3 separate regions of the Homo sapiens genome follow, and all the other regions are reported to be linked to region 3. Evidence: microRNA targets listed by miRTarBase, many of them from high-throughput screens and not tested one by one. Region 3 holds a microRNA gene; each other region holds the end of a gene's coding sequence.

Evidence for each region. Region 3 holds the annotated microRNA hsa-miR-548aw (GUGCAAAAGUCAUCACGGUU, at 1,823-1,842, opposite strand). A microRNA usually pairs through its seed, bases 2 to 8, with sites in the 3' UTR of a target mRNA and lowers its output. Matches are read on the target gene's strand: a 7mer-m8 pairs with bases 2 to 8, a 7mer-A1 pairs with bases 2 to 7 and ends in A, and an 8mer does both.
Region 1: miRTarBase lists DBN1 as a target of hsa-miR-548aw. Seed matches in the 3' UTR shown: 7mer-m8 at 2,344-2,350.
Region 2: the mRNA of ACBD5 is a reported target of hsa-miR-548aw. Seed matches in the 3' UTR shown: 7mer-m8 at 898-904 and 7mer-A1 at 1,747-1,753.

The regions. Positions count from the first base shown.
Region 1 is chr5:177,454,633-177,457,632 of GRCh38, forward strand. DBN1 (drebrin 1) reads right to left here. Exons shown (of 15, transcript NM_001363541.2): 15 at 1,978-2,871. The coding sequence ends at 2,801. It overlaps PRR7 (proline rich 7, synaptic), which reads left to right. Exons shown (of 4, transcript NM_030567.5): 3 at 197-862; 4 at 1,092-1,654. The coding sequence starts at 436. The coding sequence ends at 1,489. Among named protein-coding and RNA genes, the nearest start is that of PRR7-AS1, 8.2 kb to the left of the region's middle. RefSeq lists enhancers at 1-428, 676-970, 2,535-3,000 and silencers at 1-442, 1-123, 633-1,182, 1,273-1,412, 1,783-1,982.
Region 2 is chr10:27,194,830-27,198,173 of GRCh38, reverse strand. It overlaps ACBD5 (acyl-CoA binding domain containing 5), which reads left to right. Exons shown (of 13, transcript NM_145698.5): 13 at 732-2,960. The coding sequence ends at 744. Among named protein-coding and RNA genes, the nearest start is that of MASTL, 41 kb to the right of the region's middle.
Region 3 is chr9:132,944,213-132,947,555 of GRCh38, reverse strand. It overlaps MIR548AW (microRNA 548aw), which reads right to left and starts at 1,849; the gene lies at 1,785-1,849. It overlaps TSC1 (TSC complex subunit 1), which reads left to right and starts at 2,940. Exons shown (of 23, transcript NM_000368.5): 1 at 2,940-3,013. It also overlaps a transcript of GFI1B not described here. RefSeq lists enhancers at 2,223-2,362, 2,723-3,022, 2,335-3,068 and silencers at 2,543-2,622, 3,153-3,212, 3,273-3,332.

The DNA.
Region 1 (3,000 bases), not on the chromosome of region 3:
GGCTCAGATCGGGGAAACCCTACCGGGGAAACCTCGAGGCGTGACGTCACCCTCCTCGGTGACGTCACCGGGCCCCCGGGGAGCGCGAGGTTCCCACGGAGGAGGCTTTCCCCGGACTGCGCAGGGCGCGGGCGGGGGCCGGGAAGTCGTTGGGGGCCGCGGCGCGCCTTCACTGCGCCCCGTGTCTGCCCTACAGGTCCCGCGCGGCCCCGGGTGAGGCACGCCCGCGCGCCCGCCGGCGCCATGGGAAGGAGCGGGCGCCGCTGCTGTCCCCCGCCGGCGCGCGCACGACTTGAGACCTGCCACGGGCAGCCCCCGGCCGCGGGTCCCCGAGTGACGCTGGCGGCACCTGAGAGTGTGGCGCGGGCCCGGGGCCACGCAGCGGAGCCCAGTGTCCAGTGAAGCGTCTGAGGACCCGCCGCCCGTGCCGCCGCCATGGTGATGTCCCAGGGCACCTACACGTTCCTCACGTGCTTCGCCGGCTTCTGGCTCATCTGGGGTCTCATCGTCCTGCTCTGCTGCTTCTGCAGCTTCCTGCGCCGCCGCCTCAAACGGCGCCAGGAGGAGCGACTGCGCGAGCAGAACCTGCGCGCCCTAGAGCTGGAGCCCCTCGAACTCGAGGGCAGTCTGGCCGGGAGCCCCCCGGGCCTGGCGCCGCCGCAGCCACCACCACACCGTAGCCGCCTGGAGGCGCCGGCTCACGCGCACTCGCATCCGCACGTGCACGTGCACCCGCTGCTGCACCACGGGCCCGCGCAGCCGCACGCGCACGCGCACCCACACCCGCACCACCACGCGCTCCCGCACCCGCCGCCTACGCACCTGTCGGTGCCGCCACGGCCCTGGAGCTACCCGCGCCAAGGTGAGTACCGACCTCCGCCAGGGGGCGATCCGGGCCGCCGGAAGTGGGCGGGCGTTGGAGGGCTCGCTGCTTACCCTCAGGGCTTCCATCCGCAGCCTCCGGGAGAACACGGGCGGCGGCGGGCTCGGGTTCGGGCTAGGGCTGGGGCGCGGGCGGCCCCTGGCCGGGGCCTCTGCGAGAGGCTGGGAACCGGCGGCCTCACCTCCTCCGACCGCCTCCCACTCCGCAGCGGAATCGGACATGTCCAAACCACCGTGTTACGAAGAGGCGGTGCTGATGGCAGAGCCGCCGCCGCCCTATAGCGAGGTGCTCACGGACACGCGCGGCCTCTACCGCAAGATCGTCACGCCCTTCCTGAGTCGCCGCGACAGCGCGGAGAAGCAGGAGCAGCCGCCTCCCAGCTACAAGCCGCTCTTCCTGGACCGGGGCTACACCTCGGCGCTGCACCTGCCCAGCGCCCCTCGGCCCGCGCCGCCCTGCCCAGCCCTCTGCCTGCAGGCCGACCGTGGCCGCCGGGTCTTCCCCAGCTGGACCGACTCAGAGCTCAGCAGCCGCGAGCCCCTGGAGCACGGAGCTTGGCGTCTGCCGGTCTCCATCCCCTTGTTCGGGAGGACTACAGCCGTATAGAGGGGCGCCCGGCGCCCCGGGCCCCACCGGCGGACTCCTGGCCTGACTGCGGGGCTTTTTAAATGCTTCCCTGGACTGCGGGGAGGGGCGGGGGGAGGGAGGGATTTCTTATCCCGTTTGTTACATTTTGAGGATAATAAAGGTGTGTGATCTGGTTTGGTACAAGCGGAGGGTGCACCGGCTGCTTTCGCCCAGGGTTCTGTGTGACCAGACAAGCCGGGGCCTTGGCGGGAAGGACCCTCAACGTGCGTTTCCGCCACAACAGAACCTAAGGGTACAGCACTAAGTCTAAGACCAACCCTTCTCCGGTGGTTGTAGGTGCCAAGCGGCTTCCCCTGGGAGCCTTAGCCCCTAGCACCGCCCCCCCACCCCGCCCCCGCCTGGCGGGCCTTGGAATTAGGGTGAGGACGCCCCCTGGTGGCAAGGAGGTGCTGCGGCCTCGGAGGTGGGAGGAGTTGGGAACCTGGGTCAGGGCAGGCGGCAGCCCGAAGGGATCTGGATTTCTTTATTAACAGACATGAGCACGACCCGTTACAGAAGTTTGTGCTTTCCAAAAAAAAAAAAAAAAAAAAAAAAAAAACAGTTACTAAACGTGAAAAAGGAACCCAAGCAAAGAGGAAGGAGTTGGGGAGGGGCCACCAAAGCCCCTGGGCCCCATCCATAGCCCTGACCTGAACCGCGCCTAGGGCCTCCAACCTGGGACCTGCCCGGCAGGAGACGGGGGGTAGCCGAGGGGCCCCAGCTGGGCCTGCTACTTCCTTTGGGCCAGACAGGAAGGGGTCAAAAGAAGGGCGGGGAGGGGGTCCCAGGGAGCCAGAGCCCACGAGCCATTTATTGCCATGTTTTAAAATTCGTGCAAAATATCTGAAGCCCTGGACAGAGAATACAAAGTGATATTTTCCCAAGAAACATAAAACTAGGAAAAGAGGTGGGGGACATTTTCCCACCAGAGCTCCCCCCACGCCAGGCCCCAAGCAGGGTGAGGCCTCCAACCCGGCCAGCTGAGCAGGGAGGACTAAGAGCTACAATCTGGACCAGGGAAGGAGGGGTGGAATTTGCAACAGCGTCTCAACTACCAACGAGAGGAAAGCCAGTCAACTGTACAAGTCTCCTATCAACTTTTTAAAAAAAGAGAAAAGCTGTAAAAGTCAGGCCCTGTGGGTAGGGAAGCGGCCAAGTCCCCAGCCAGGGCCGGAATCCGGAGTGGGTGCCAGGCGGAGCTGCTGCGAATGCAGGCACGGCGGGCCGTCTGGCCAGAGGCTGATGCAGGTGGGCGGCCTTGGCAAGGGTAGCCTAGGGCTGGCGCCACCGCTAATCACCACCCTCGAAGCCCTCCTCCTCTTCTGGAACTGGGTCTGCATCCCAGCATGTGATGTCGATCTCTGTGGCGTTAGAAAGGGAGAGGAGTTAGGGACCTAGCAGACCGCTTGTGTCCCCAGCCTCTGTGAGCGGTGGGTAGTGGTGGGGTGGCTACCCACACTCAAATCCAGCCCCCGCACCCAAATTCCTCC
Region 2 (3,344 bases), not on the chromosome of region 3:
CAGAGCCTGGAAAGTAATAGAAACATAATCCATGTTGATTAAGTGAATACTCCAGGTCGTACATCTATTATCCTCTTACAGTTTTGTTACGCATTTGTTTCATAACTTTTCCATTTTGATAAAATTATGAAATCATTTCCACAAATCTTAATTGTGTAATAGCCAATTAGAAAAGGGTAAGAATCTAGAAAGTAAGAGAGGATGAATGTACATTTAAATTATTTATTAAAAACTGGCCAGGATGGCTGGGCGCCATAGCTAACGCCTGTAATCCCAACACTTTGGGAGGCTGAGGTGGGTAGATCACCTGAGGTCAGGAGTTCAAATGGCGAAACCTCGTCTCTATTAAAAATACAGAAATTACCCAGGTGTGGTGGCACACACCTGTAATGCCAGCTACTTGCAAGGCTGAGGCAGGAGAATCGCTTGTACCCGGGAGGCGGAGGGTTGCAGTGAGCCAAGATGGCACCATTGCAGTCCAGCCTGGACGACAGAGCAAGACTTTGCCCCAGTAAATAAATAAATAAATAATTTAAAACTGTTTGGTAATTTCAGCACTTGTAATTGGATCTTTCCTATCAGGCTGCAAGTCATATGATGTAGTTCTATAAAGACTGTTGGTAATATTATGGTTTTATTTTGAATTTGTATGTTATTATTATTATGTTACCATCCAGAGAATTATTTGCATTCATACTCACAGGAAATTGGTTTTTATTTTCTTTTTAAAGAAAACTGAACTGAGGAAAATGGTGTTTTCCTCAAGAAGACTACTGGAACTGGATGACCTCAGAATGAACTGGATTGTGGTGTTCACAAGAAAATCTTAGTTTGTGATGATTACATTGCTTTTTGTTGTCCAGTAGTTTAGTTTGTGTACATATATACACATATATATTTTGCACTACACAAACGATAACATTTTAAGGACTAATATTGCTGATACTTGAATAATCAATCTCTACTAGGTTATAAGTAGTATACACAGATTTACCCTGCCCTTGAACTTGAAGGACATTAAATTATTAATGATCATTTGGTAACATGTTTACCTGATTATCTTCCATAGAGTAACATAAGCTGCTTTTCAAAGGTACCATTGTGATAATGAGATCAAATTTATAAGTTATTATTTTTAATTTTCTAAATTAAATAAAAGAAAGAATGCAAACCAGGAGTGAATTTCAAATGAGATGTAATCGACTTTATATCTTAGTCACGGAGTTGCCATGGCATGTAGTAGAAAACCACAGGAAGAATGGTCATATTCACTTTGTGGGCTGCCCATAATCTTTCTTGGGCATTCACAACTCTTGAGTTTGGTGTTCAGGCATCATTATTAAAAAGTGGAGTCCTATGTACCAGACTGAGTTTTTACAAATGATTTGCAGGCTAGACATAACCCACTGATGGAAATGGTGAAGAATGAGCTTCATGTAGGTTTAAAAGTGTATTCTGAGCCTGTAGATGATTAATCAGGTTTTTATTCAATCATATAAATGTATTCCTTTGTAATCATTTTTGTTTAACTGAGGATATCTAGTGTCTGCTTCATAGGGTGCTTTGAAATATAAAATGAAAACTTATTTATACTGTTTTTACAACAGTCAAAAAGGAAACACACGAAAATCACTTTTCTGCAACTGATGAACTATATAGACTGGACTCTTAACCTCTTAGTGCCTCAGTTTTTCCTTCGGGGTATACTATTTTAGATACACCTACTTCACAGGAGTACTGGAGGGATTTGCAAGCTAACGGGCCAAATGCTTCCATAGGAATAAGGCATGCCCAGCTAACAGAAATTTAAGTCCCTCTTCCCCACCTCTCTCATCTAGACCAAAAAGAAGACTACAATTTAGATCCTTGGAGACTTTTCCTGTATGCCTTCCAAAACTTCCTGCTCACTTAGATGTACCTTGTGCTTTGAAGATTTCTTTGATGCAGTCTTTGTAACAAATAATTTTTTTTTTTAAATGGAGTTTCTCTCTTGTTGCCCAGGCTGGAGGGCAATGGCGTGATCTTGGCTCACTGCAACTTCCACCTCCTGGGTTCAAGTGATTCTCCTGCCTCACTCCCAAGTAGCTGGGATTACAGGCATGCACCACCATGCCTGGCTAATTTTGTATTTTTAGTAGAGACGGGGTTTCTCCATGTTGGTAAGGCTGATCTCAAACTCCCAACCTCAGGTGATCTGCCTGCCTCGGCCTCCCAAAGTGCTGGGATTAGAGGCGTGAGCCACTGCACCTGGCCTGTAGCAAATAATTTTTAAGCATTCTCAAGATGTATGATGTTGGGTTTAACATCATATGTTCACAGTGTTTTAAATAAGAAATAATCTGTCTTTAGTATACAGAATGGTTCTTTGTTTGCCTGAAAAGTATAAGAATACAATTTACTTTTCCCAAACTCTTTTTCCTTATTTTTTTCTTTCAAATAACTTTAATTATTTAATCCCATACTGATTAAAATATGTCTGTCTAAAGGGATCTACTACTATTTGCTTTTAAAAAAGTGTTCCCTATTTATTTAGGAAAAAGTGAAGCAAGCAACTGAATTTATATGTAAAAATAACATTTAGACCTGTGGATCAAAGATTATTTTCAAAAATGAGATATCAATTTGGTATCAGTAAAAAGTGTCTTTTCTCTTAGTATATAAATAAATAAAATGCAAATTAAGAGTGTAAGCAGTTGTGAATCATTACAAGCAGTCTGGGATAACTAACTCCTAGGGATAACCATTTCTATCCTGTTCCAAAGTCTTATTTTATAGTTTGAAAAGCACTTTGCACACAGTTCTTGTATATAAAAGTAAAGATGTAATTATAGGATATAGTGTTCCTGCTTTGTTTAATAAGAACCTCATTTAAACTTGACAGCTATGGTATTTTTTTAATGATAACTTCTTTTCTGTTTATTGTAAAACTAAGTTAAAAATAAAAGGTTAATGAGAAATGATATGGCTTTTATTACTTGTTACTATTAGCCCATTGATTAGGTAAGAATTCAATGAGAGTAAGTAGTAGTCGCACATAAAGTAATTATGACTCTCAAAATAAAGCCATGCTATTCCACACAATTTGATAAAAATCAGAAACTGGGATGAAATTTAACTTATTTAGTCATCTGGTTGAGAATATTAGCAATCCAGTCAGATTCTTGGTTTTACTTTTTTTTGAGACAGAGTCTCGCTCTGTTGCCAGGCTAGAGTGCAGTGGCGTGATCTCGGCTCACTGCAACCTCCGCCTCTCAGGTTCAAGCGATTCTCCTGCCTCAGCCTCCCGAGTAGCTGGGAGTACAGGCACGTGCCACCACTCCCGGCTAATTTTTGTATTTTTAGTA
Region 3 (3,343 bases):
ATTACAGAAGTGAGCTACTGCGCCAGGCCACTTTACTTTGTCTATAAATTTGTTCTGACCCCGGGAGTCTCTCTGAATCTGTTGATTCTAGAGGCTGCCTGATTCATGAATTCTCTTTTTCTTTCTTTTTTTTTTTTTTTTTTGCTCGATTAAATTTAATCTAATTGAACTTGTCTTAAGCTTTCTTTTAACAAGCTCCATGATGGGCATCTCAGATTGGCCAGGCCTGGTCCACCTGCTGTGGCCTGGGGCTGGTACTGTGATTGTGAGGACCATCAGCACTGAAAGAATTGAGGATGGGCGGTTCACCTGTTCAGAAGGCGAGGGGGAGATGTCACACAGCCAAATGCAGCAGATGTCCTCCACCACGTGCATCCTGTCAGCACGCCCGCCTATGGAGGGCTCAGCCCTTTCATGCTCAGACAGGCCGGTCAGGAAGCCCCGTCACAGGGAGGCTCCAGGGTGGTGTATGGAAGGTAGTGGTCTGAATAGTGTCTGTTGAGCAAATGACAAAAATCAACCCCAGAGAAGCAGAAAACATCTAGGTGGCCCAGCCTGGTAAGTGGCAGGAGATGGTAGTAGAGCTGTCTCTGCCTGTCACCTTCAGCCTCTTCTTGCAAGCCCCTGGTGGTCCCATATTGAGGTAACAATGCCCATTCTTCTTCCAGACAGTGTAGAAACAGTGACAATGTGGTTATGGCCCCCTGGAAAGTGAGCAGTTGATGAGCTCTGCTTATGGCTGCTCTCCTCCATGGCAGAATGCATTCCTGCAGGATGAGGTCATGGAGCCAAGGAAGGTCAGGGTGTGGGGGGGCTTCCTGGGTCAGAGCTCCAGAGCAGTGCTGCTCCCCCTGCCCTCCTCCTTAGGTCTCCCATCACTGGTGGTCTCAGAAATCTCTGAAGATTTCAGAAATCTTGAATCCCTTCCCTGGTGTGAATGCAAAGGGAAGAGTCTGTTCCTGTAAAGTAGTTTGCAGATTGGTGGAACTGAGAGAACCCAGACCCTTCCCCGTTTCCCTCGACCTTTCCATCTCTGGACCCCATGCAGACTATGCTTGGGTGGTGACACAGAAGAATTTAGTGTTTGGTGGACCCGTTTCTGGAAGTGATGGATGCTGACAGCTGGCACTTAACAGTTATCAAAAATAACATTAACTGGAGTAGGCTCTGTGCCACTTAGAGCTTAATGACTCACTGACTTCACCCCAAATCCCCATGAACTAGCATTATTATTAGCCCTATGTTGCAGGTGAGGAGACTAAGGCTCATCCAGTTAGAACATGATGGCTGAAACCTACATTCAAACTCTGGTCTGTTTGAATCTAGAACTCTTAGCTTCCCCCCAGCGACTGTGTTAGAACAGAGGAATCATCAGTTCAATTTTCACCTCCCTCCTAAGCCTTCGTGGCTCTAGACGTATGGTTATAAAGGTTGTTCACTGCTCAAGGGCCCAGGAGGGTTTGGGGCTGGTGGATAGGGGCCAAAATACAGCCCAGGGGTGCCATTTTTCTAATTCTCACCAAGGCCCTATACTGACTAGCAGCGGCTCTACCCGATACCATCCAGGGCCTTTTCAGAATTCTGAAGGCACCCACGGTGCTGGCTACTCACACACCTGGCCCCCCTTAACCATGGCTGCCTTGCACTGTGACCCAATTGGTTCCCATGACAAAACCTGTTATTCCCATAACTCACCCAACACTTTTTTGCCCCTAGGCTCTTGCTCCTTTGGTTCCCTCTGCCTGGAATGGCCTTCTCTCCCGAGCCGCCTCGCCTGGTTCTATTAGGTTGATGCAAAAGTCATCGCGGTTTTAATGGTAAAAACCGTGATGACTTTTGCACCGACCTAGTATTTCACAAAACCTACATTTCCTTTAAAACCCAACCTGATGCCTACTCCTTCAAAATGCCTTTCATATCCCACAGTTCGACTTCATCTCACTCTGCCTCCTCTCACAGGGCTTTGTGTTCGTGCTGGATGGAGCCCATCATACTCAGCCTCGCAATAAAGGCCACCTATCTAGTGAGTGAGCATTTACTAGGCGCAGGACTCTGGGCTAAACGCTGTCCATACTTCATCTCCTTGATTCTTCACGTCACAGATGTCATTATGCCCATTTCACAGAGGAAGAAACTGAGGCTTGGAGGACTTAAAGCCTTGTTTCAGCAGGAAACGGAATAAGGCGTTCTGATTTTCAAGCTGTCTCCTATTAGGGCTGGTTTCCCCTAGATGTCATGAGTAGGTGTGAAGTGTGAGCTACTTGAAGGCAGAAGCCAGGGGGGTCCCCCGCAATCCCGGAGGCGGGCTTCTGAAAATGTTTAGCCCAGGAAGGAGGGCTGCCCTGGCCCGCAGCTTTCCGCCCCTTCCCAGGTGAGCTGCAACTCCAAAGCTCCCAAGCAGGCCCTTCACCCACGCGGGCCCCAGCAGCTCCTTGGGAAACAGGATCGCTGCTCTGAGGCCGCCCACAGAGAGACCCTCGGAGGGCGCCACGCAAGCGAAGGGCAGAAACGACTCGGGGGGCAGGGGCAGGGCGCTCCAACCACACCCAGGCGCCGCCAGCTTGTTTACGCCTCTCCGCCGCGTCCCCCCGCCCGCCAGTCACGTGACCGCCCGCCCCGCCCCCTCGGGCTCTCGCGTGGCTCCTCCCGCCGCGCCGGCCCTTCTTTTTGCCTCCTTCGCGGAGTCACAAGATCTCTTCGCAGCCTCCTTTCGGATCCTTCCGCCCGGCCCCGCCCCCCTCCATAAAAACCCTCCTTACTTTTTTTCTCGTCCAACCCACATCGTCAGTTATGAGTGGAAGAGCCTCTTCCTTCCGGCGGGGCTGCCGAGCGCGGCCGTCTATCCTTCCTTTCGAGAAGGAGGGGAGGTCCGGAGGGGGACTCTTTTTCGTGGCGGAGGCCGCCGTCGGCCTTGGCCCTTTCACGACGGGGGAGGTGCTGTACGTCCAAGATGGCGGCGCCCTGTAGGCTGGAGGGACTGTGAGGTAAACAGCTGAGGGGGAGGAGACGGTGGGTGAGTATGGGGGTGTCTCCCCCTCCTTTTTATGGGGGCTTCCTGGGGCAGCCCCGGCACCATGACTCCAGCCGGGGAGGCTCGGAGGGGCTGGAGCAAGAGACTCACTTGCTTGGTAGGGATCCCGGGGAAGGGGGGTTCGGAGAGCTCTCCCCTCCCTCTTATTACACGCTATCTCCGGCTGGCCCGGCCGGGACTGGCGGGTCCCTGGGGAGGAGAGGCGAGCCGGACGGAGCACTTCGCCCCTCCTTGGCCCCCGAGGGGACGGCTGCACCCTGGGCCTCGGTCCCTCGGGCAGGGGCGAGGTGGGCCCCTTCGTCAGTCCCTCAC